Regions from separate parts of the Homo sapiens genome. Here region 2 is linked to region 1. The links come from fine-mapping of genetic effects on gene expression. A gene starts in region 1. The other region holds a variant in brackets. All regions are shown on one strand. Distances are from middle to middle. Region 1 holds the start of ZNF646 (zinc finger protein 646). Region 2 has its middle 15 kb from the start of STX4.

Evidence for each region. PIP is the estimated chance that this variant, and not a neighbour inherited with it, causes the effect. A credible set is the group of variants that fine-mapping cannot tell apart.
Region 2: its variant is the best candidate, but not a certain one, in a credible set for the expression of ZNF646 in whole blood (TOPMed, PIP 0.55).

The regions. Positions count from the first base shown.
Region 1 is chr16:31,072,273-31,076,655 of GRCh38, forward strand. ZNF646 (zinc finger protein 646) reads left to right here and starts at 2,150. Exons shown (of 3, transcript NM_014699.4): 1 at 2,150-2,359; 2 at 3,974-4,383. The coding sequence starts at 4,053. It overlaps ZNF668 (zinc finger protein 668), which reads right to left and starts at 1,968. Exons shown (of 3, transcript NM_024706.5): 1 at 1,387-1,968. RefSeq lists enhancers at 844-1,644, 936-1,230, 1,850-2,383, 1,889-2,028, 2,384-2,916 and a silencer at 1,119-1,578.
Region 2 is chr16:31,046,283-31,050,665 of GRCh38, forward strand. No RefSeq gene overlaps it. Among named protein-coding and RNA genes, the nearest start is that of STX4, 15 kb to the left of the region's middle. The variant C/T (reference allele first, on the strand shown) is at 2,036.

The DNA.
Region 1 (4,383 bases):
CAAATGGAAAGAACCAACCTCAGATGAAATTTGAACCCAGGTCTGTAGCCTCTGCCTCCTCCACAGTAGGAGTTTGTGAGAATGTCCACCAATAACTGTTTATTAACTAAATTCCTCCACCTTTCCAACTCCACAAGGCTCAACTATTGCCCCAATATCCCACAGTGGGCTCCCTGTCGTGGCGATGAAGCCTTGCTTTGCCTCACTACTGGCTTAGGAAGGGGATGAAGTTCTGCTGTCTCACTAGGCAAGCAAAGATTCAATTTCCAAAAATCCTAGGCTAGGACCCTGGGGCAGGGATGAGGAGAAAAAGGAGGCACCTCAATCTTCCCATCTCTAAACAAGCAGTCACCACACAGGCCTCACGGCCAGGAGTGACGTAGTGAGCGGATGAACCCTGCAGAAGTGAGCGCTAATCATATCCTAGGCCTCCTACCGGGCCAGTTCACAACCTGATCCCAACCTACTTTTCCAGCCTCAGCTCCAGCGACAGAGTCCTCCTCCCGGCAGCGACCGAACCTCCAGCCACAATTCTCAATCCTCCACCTCTAGATGCAGTTTCCTGGGCTCGGGGAGCCCTTGCCTGCCTTCTCCAACGGGAAAGCCCCTTTACATCCTTCAAGAACCCCCTTCCCTAGTGCCCTCAGGAATACTTTATGGCAGTAGAGAGGTAAGGGCCCCACGCCGCTCTGGACCTCAGTTTCCTCATCAGTAAAATGGGGTCCCTTAAGTTTGTGGGAGTTTGAAGGGCGGTGGGGCCTACGAAGCGCGCCGAGGAGCCGAGAGTTGCAGAAACCCGGAGCTCCTCGCTCCTCGCAACCGTCTGTACGCGGCGCCCCCGCCAGCCAGGCAGCCCCTGGAGGGCAGGACCCCGGTTATAAGCCTCAGAAAACGTGGCTTCGGAGGACGTGGCAAGGAGGACTGAACGAAGGATGAGGAGATGAACAAATGAATGGACGGAAGGCCGAATGAGGGACAAAGGCTTGCAAGATGGCGTTCTCTAGGACCGCGGGAGTGGTGGCCGGGCCTCAGCAGGGGAGGGGGCCGCCGGCGCCTGGGATCTTGCAGCGCGGGCCACGCGACCGGGACAAAAACCCAAAACATGGCGGGCTCTAGGACCCCCGGGACCACACCGCGCCGGGCCAGCAGCCGCGCGGGCCGAGCCTGGGTGTCCGCAGCCCAGAACCGCGGAGACAGCCGGCGGGTTCTAGGACCTGCTGGGCCCGCAATGCGCCCGGGGCCGCTCACAGCCCGCCCCGCCCGCGCTGCTCGCGCTGGGCCAACCCGGCCCGCCCTCGGCGCCCGCAGGGAAACTGAGGCCAGCTCGGATCGTGGCCGCGTGGGAGCTGCCCGGGGCCCTCGCGGCTTCCCGCCGACGTTTCCTACCTGATGAGACTTGTGCTGACTCCGTGGCGTCGGCGTCGGCTCCTCGCACCGACGGAGCCCGGACCCTGCCAAACAGGGGCCGGCGCTAGGACCCAGCGGGGGGCGGGGAGGTGGGACCGGTGGCGCGGCGAGCGGAAGTGAGGGATCTTCCTCAGCTAGGAAGGAAGGGAAAGTTCCCGGGGAACCTCCAGCCTATGGCGGCAGAGAAGCATCTTGCAAGAGGTCTCTGTGTGTGCTGAGGCAAGGGGACGCCAGGCAGGCTGACGGTATACGCCCGCCTTGTGTTAGTCTGGGGCCAGGTCACCGGCAATGTCTTCAAGAACCAGAAGGTGGGAGGACAAAAAGGCCATGCTCAAGCTCTGCAAAACCTAAGTCCAATTATATTCCACAACATTTCCTTTAATAGCAAGGAGTGGGTTTCACGAAGTTTTCTCCATCTGCCTTGGGAAAAGTCCTCCAGAGAGCCCCACGAAAAGTGTCACCAAAGTACTGTGGCCAGGGCTGTAGAATCTTTTTCTCCCTTTCTGCGCCTATTCAATATGCACCGGAACGATTCTAGCTGCTCTTGCCGGAAGTGTGGCTAGCTTAGCGTGCAAAGACGCCGCGTTGTGACCTACGTGGGCGGAGTCAGCCGTGCAGACCTAGAACTTAGCGCCGGAAGTGTGTCTGCGTAAAACTGCGGCTCGGAGGCGGGACAGGCAGTGCTCCCGAAGCGGAAGTTTCGCGGGGAAGCTTTTGCACCTAAGGACACTTCCTGTTTCCTAGTAACAATAGGAAGTGTCCGTAGAGCTGGGAGTAGACTCCTGGCTCATGCCAGCTGCGCCCTCTTTTCTCTACCTCCTTCCTCTTCCCCCCTTCTCCTTTCCCTCTTTCCCTTCCCTCCCACCTCCCGGGAACCCTGGCTGAGTGTGCGTGTGTGGGAGCGCGAGAGCCCCCCGACAGCCACCCCTTGGGGCGCGCGGCTGCAGTTAGGGTAAGGGTCCCAGTGCGCAGGCGCGCTCTTGTTCGCGGTCCCCAACTGACGCGCCCGCGGCGGGAAGGAGAGGGGGCCGCCGGTGCGAGGTAGGCGTCCTGAGAGGAAATTGGCAGACGAGATGAGTGAGGTCAGAGGACTTCATTGGTGGTTGACTAGGGGAGGGGACTTTTGATCAAAGGGGCTTTGTGAGGTGAGAATTCCGGGGGCAGGTTCAGTGAAGGGGTTTACGGTCGGAGACAGTTGTACTGGGGTCCCATGGGAAGAAGAGTCAGAGTTGGAGAAGGACAAGACGATGTAGGGGGCATGAGAGAGCAAGGGCTTTGGGATGAAGACCGCCTCAGTCAGGGGGTTTGCTGTTACGTGAACTAGAATAACAGGCATTGCCGTGTGTTCTGAGGATTGAGTAACACAATGAATATAGTTAGCACAGTGCCTGGCACATGGTAATATAATACTCTTCATGAGTTGCTGTCATCATCAGTATTAAGAGAGGAGGCAGAAGAAAAAAATGAGAAAGACTGGTGAGGGTAAGATCAGGAGGCATGGGAGAGAAAAGGTAGGCAATGAAGTGACATTACAACCTGGTATTGATGTTATTCCCAAGATGGAAGATAGTTTGAGTTCAAGGGAAGTAGATAAAAGAAGTCGCTAAGAGAGTCTTTTGGGGTTTTTTGTTTTTTTGAGATGGAGTCTCGCTCTGTCACCCAGGCTGGAGTGCTGTGGTGGGATCTCAGCTCACTGCAACCTCCACCTCCCAGGTTCAAGCAGTTCTTCAGCCTCAGCCTCCTGAGTAGCTAGAATTACAGGTGCCCACCACCACGCCCGGCTAATTTTTGTATTTTTAGTAGAGACAGGGTTTCACCATGTTGTCCAGGCTGGTCTTGAACTCCTGAACTCAGGTGATCCACCAGCCTCGGCCTCCCAAAGTGCTGGGATTACAGGCGTGAGCCACCACACCTGGCCCAGTTAAGAGAGTCTTAACTCTCTTAACTCTCTTGTCACAAGGAAAAGAGACCTTGTGACACTGAAATGACTCGGGGTGGTGGGGGAACAAGCCAGCCCTTTCCCTGAAGGAGGCCTCTAACCTCTCCTCTCAGGTCCTCAGCTATTAACTGGAGGAAACAGCTGCTTTTTCAGTGCTTCTCAGCTACTCTGTTTAGCTGAGAGATGAAGTAGGAAGATTTGGACTTCTCTTATTGAAAGGCCTAGAGAAGGTTTTGGTGTCCTTTTAAGATGTCACAGAAAATTTTTGTTTCAGGATTGTAGGGAGCAGATTCCTACTGTTCTTAAAGGACAGTAATGCCTTTTGAGTCTGGTCTGAAGAACATAACAGGTCTGTGATCAGAAGTAGGTTGCATCTCTCTCAACTTTAATTTCCTTAGCTATACCTGTAGGGATGACTTAAGCCTAGGGGAGCTCCTATATTTGGGAAGCTTGTGCACAGGGAAGCCTTAAATGATGGTGCCTGCAGATTGGATCTAGTAGAAATTAGGTCCTTGGGCATGGATGCTTGGGGAACCTCTCAGTGACCTCAGGTGAACTTGTTGCTCGTAGAGCCAAGAGGCGAAGTTAATTCAGGCCTTCCTTTTGACCACTGCCCCCTCTTCCTAGGCCTTGGCCCCTCCACCAGAGGAAGGTGCTGCCACGTGTCTGCTCCTTCTGAACCTCCAGGTTTCTGCTACGTTGCCCCATGGAGGACACACCCCCCTCACTCAGCTGCTCCGACTGTCAGCGCCACTTTCCCAGCCTCCCAGAGCTCTCTCGGCACCGAGAACTGCTCCATCCATCTCCCAACCAGGACAGTGAGGAGGCTGACAGCATCCCTCGGCCCTACCGTTGTCAGCAGTGTGGGCGGGGCTACCGTCACCCCGGGAGCCTGGTTAACCATCGTCGGACCCACGAGACTGGCCTTTTCCCCTGTACCACCTGTGGCAAGGACTTCTCCAATCCCATGGCTCTCAAGAGCCATATGAGGACACATGCTCCTGAGGGCCGCCGCAGGCACAGGCCCCCACGCCCCA
Region 2 (4,383 bases), 26 kb before region 1:
GTTCAAGCCTTTCTCCTGACTCAGCCTCCCAAGTAGCTGGGATTACAGGCGTGCACCACCACGCTCAGCTAATTTTTGTATTTTCAGTAGAGACAGGTTTCACCATGTTGGCCAAGCTGGTCTTGAACTTCTGACCTCAAATGATCCTCCCACCTCGGCCTCCCAAAGTGCTGGGATTACAGGTGTGAGCCACTGCGACCGGCTGAGCTACAAGTTTTGATTAAAAGTCATCTTTGTGGCAAGGGCCATATCAAGTATATGGCTATTATGCCCTTTGTAAAAATCTCCAAACTGATCAAAGTGGTTCCTAATAAATCCTCTCAGCTAGTCAAGATGATTCAAAGGAAAGAGGTTAAGAGTGTAACTCACCTTGGCTGGGCGTGGTGGCTCACGCCTGTAATTCCAGCACTTTGGGAGGCTGAGGTGGGCGGATCACCTGAGGTCAGGAGTTTGAGACTAGCCTAACCAACATGGAGAAACCCCGTCTCTACTAAAAATACAAAATTAGCCAGGCATGGTGGTGCATGCCTGTAATCCCAACTACTTGGGAGGCTGAGGCAGGAGAATTGCTTGAACCTGGGAGGCGGAGGTTGCAGTGAGCCAAGATCACCCATGGCACTCCAGCCTGGGCAACAAGAGTGAAACTCCATCTCAAAAAAAAAAAAAAATGTAGCTTACCTGAGGGAGTCAGTAGGCTCAACTACAGTTAAGTCTAACGTCATGGTTATGTCTGAAAAGAATTATGGGTATGCTGTTGACCCATGGATCTGAATGGAGTAAAATACGTAAGTTCAGTTTTGGAGGGAATTGCCCTGCTTCCCCTGCCTAACACCCCCTCACCCTGACAAAAAGCCACCAGGTTAAATCTTGACCATGAGTGTTCAATACTTAGTATGATTTTTAGGTCCCCAAGTTTCTTTCTTTTTTTTTATTTCGGAGACCGGGTCTCACTCTGTCACCCAGCCTGGAGTGCAGTGATGCAACCACAGCTCTCTATAACCTCGAACTTCTGGGCTCACACGATCCTCCTGCCTCAGCCTCCCAAGTAGCTGGGACTACAGGCCCATGCCACCCCAGCAGGCTAATTTTTGTTTTTCAAATTTTTTTGAAACAAAATCTCACTCTGCCACCCAGGCTGAAGTGCAGTGGCACGATCTTGGCTCACTGCAACCTCCGCTTCCTGGGCTTGAGTGATCCACTTACCTCAGCCTCCCAAGTAGCTGGGACTACAGGTGTGCGCTACCATGCCCGGCTAATTTTTGTATTTTTTTGGTAGAGACAGGGTCTTGCTATATTGCCCAGGCTGGTCTCGAACTCCTGAACTCAAGCGATTCACCTGTCTTGGCCTCCCAAAGTGCTGGCATTATAGGCGTGCAGTGTACCACCATGCCCAGCCTATTTTTGTTTTGTTTTGCTTTGTTTTGTTTTGAGATGAAGTCTTGCTCTGTCACTCCAGCTGGAGTGCAGTGGCACAATCAAGCCTCACTGCAGCCTCTACCTCTAGGGCTCCAGTGATCCCCCCACCTCAGCCTTCTGAGTAGCTGGGACTACAGGCATGCGCCACCACACCTGGCTAATTTTTCTATTTTTTTCTGGAGAGGATTTCAGCCTGTTGCCCAAGCTGGTCTTGAACTTCTGGTCTTAAGGAGTTCTCCCTCGTTGGCTTCCCAAAGTGATGGGATTACAGGTGTGAGCCACCATGCCCAGCCTAATTTTTGTATTTCAGGTTTTTTTTTGTTTTGTTTTGTTTTGTTTTTAGTAGAGATGGGGGTCTCTGTATGTTGCCCAGGCTGGCCTCAAGCAATCCTTGCCTCAAGTGATCCTCCTGCCTTAGCCTCTCAAAATACTGTGATTGCAGATGTGAACCACCATGCCCGGCCTGGGTCTCCAAATTTCTTTTTTTTTTTTAGAGACGGAGTCTCGTTCTGTCACCCAGGCTGGAGTGCAGTGGTGTGATCTCGGCTCACTGCAAGCTCTGCCTCCCAGGTTCACGCCGTTCTCCCGCCTCAGCCTCCCGAGTAGCTGGGACTACAGG[C/T]GCCCGCCACCATGCCCGGCTAATTTTTTTTTGTATTTTTAGTAGAGACAGGGTTTCACTGTGTTCGCCAGGATGGTTTCGATCTCCTGACCTCGTGATCTGCCCGCCTCGGCCTCCCAAAGTGTTGGGGTTATAGGCGTGAGCCACCGCACCTGGCCATGGGTCTCCAAATTTCTATGGGCATGAAGGAGACTGAGAAAGCTACTCTACTTCAGAAAGACATAACCACCAGTGTCCTCTCAATTGTGGCCAAGGAGAATAAGTGGAAAAGGGTGGTTTACTCTAAGGGCAGAGCCAAGAACATGGTGAAGAATGAACTAGGGAACTCTTCCCACTCCCAGGGAAAAGTGGGGGTTCTTCTCAACATCTGCCCAGCAGCACTTTAGACTTAGTGGGGCCCAGAGCCTGCTGTGTGTCTCCTGTCCTTCCTTCCTTTTTTTTTTTTTTTTTTTTTTTTGAGACAGAGTTTCACTTTTGTCACCCATGTTGTAGTGCAATGGCACTATCTCGGCTCACTGCAACCTCTGCCTCCTGGGTTCAAGCGATTCTCTTGCCTCAGCCTCCCGAGTAGCTGGGACTACAGGTGCATGCCACCACGCCTGGCTAATTTTTGGTTTTGGGGTTTTTTGTTTTTGTTTTTGAGACGGAGTCTTGCACTGTCGCCCAGGCTGGAGTGGAATGGCACGATCTCGGCTCACTGCAACCTCTGCCTCCTGGGTTCAAGCGATTCTCCTGTCTCAGCCTCCTGAGTAGCTGGGACTACAGGGGCCCGCCACCACGCCCGGCTAACTTTTTGTATTTTTAGTAGAGACCGGGTTTCACTATGTTGGCCTGGCTGGTCTTGAACTCCTGACCTTGTGATCTGCCCCCCTCGGCCTCCCAAAGTGCTGGAATTACAGACGTGAGCCACTGCGCCTGGCTAATTTTTGTATTTTTAGTAGAGACAGGTTTTCACCGTGTTGGCCAGGGTGGTCTCAAACTCCTGACCTCAGGTGATCCACCGGCCTCGGCCTCCCAAAGTGCTGGGATTACAGGCATGAGCCACCGCACCGGGCCCTGTCCTTCCTTCTGAACGGGAGTGTGCTCTGCTGTTCTCCTGTCCTTGTTCTGCTTTATATGTTGGATGTGTTCGTGTGTGTGTGTGTGTAGAAATGGGGCACAGGTAACTTGTCTCTGTCTCTCTCTTATTTTGTAGCTCATAGGTCTCTGAATCAAGAGAAGCCACATCTGGACCTGATATAGAAGAGACTATTAGAGATCCTGGGCTTGAGGCTGATTCCATGTCAGATGGGTCACTTAGGTGGTCTCCCTTGGGAAGGGGATGCATTTATTTTGCATATGGAAGAAAATGCAAAGGCAGTATTTGTAAGGAAGAGGGCAGACGGGGGAAGATTTTATAATTGTTCAAAAACATTCACTGGGATGTGTGTGGTGGCTCACGCCTATAATCCCAGTGCTTTGGGAGGGTGAAGCAGGAGGATCACTTGAGGCCAGGAGTTTGAGACCAGCATGGGCAACATAGTGAGACCCTATCTCTACAAAAAATAAAACAATAAAAAAAAATTAGCTGGGCGTGGTGGTGCTTGCCTGTAGTCCTAGCTACTTAGGAGGCTGAGGTGGGAGGATCACTTAAGCTCAGGAGGTAGAGGCTGCAGTGAGTTATGATTGCACCATGCACCTATGCACTCCAGCCTGGGCAACACAACAAAACACTGACTCTAAAAAAACAACCAACAAAAAAAAATCACATGTATTCACTGGCCCTCTCTTTGGGGACCTGCTACATAGAATGGTTTTTTGTCCCCAGTTCACTGACATCAGGTATGGCTATGTGGCTTGCTTTAGACCATGGACTTTGAGTGGAAATGACATGTGCCACTTCCACGAGGAAGCTTTAAAAGCCGTCATGGGGTCTGCCACCTTTCCTCTCTTCGGTGTCTGGAGACGGAAAGTTCCAGCTTGAGACTTTTCCTTCAGACAGGGCTCTAGAATGAAGATAGCATAGAACAGAGTGGTCCCATGGAGGACATGGATATGAGTGAGAAATCAACATGGTGTTGTGAGCCCCTAAGATTTGGGGGCTGCTATTACTGCAGCGTAACTGGATCCCAGCTGATAGATGCAGCCTCCCTGTGGGATACCCTGCTCAGGTATCCTTTCCCATCACCATGACAACTGACACACCATAATGAGCTATGCTGATGTTAGGAAGTCTCCGCCTTTGCTCCTCTTCAGAGCTGTTCACCCTCAGGTCCTAACCAGTGAGCCTATTTCTTTTTTTCTTTCTTTTTTTTTTTTTTTTTGAGATGGAGTCTTGCTCTGTCACCAGGCTGGAGTGCAGTGGTGCG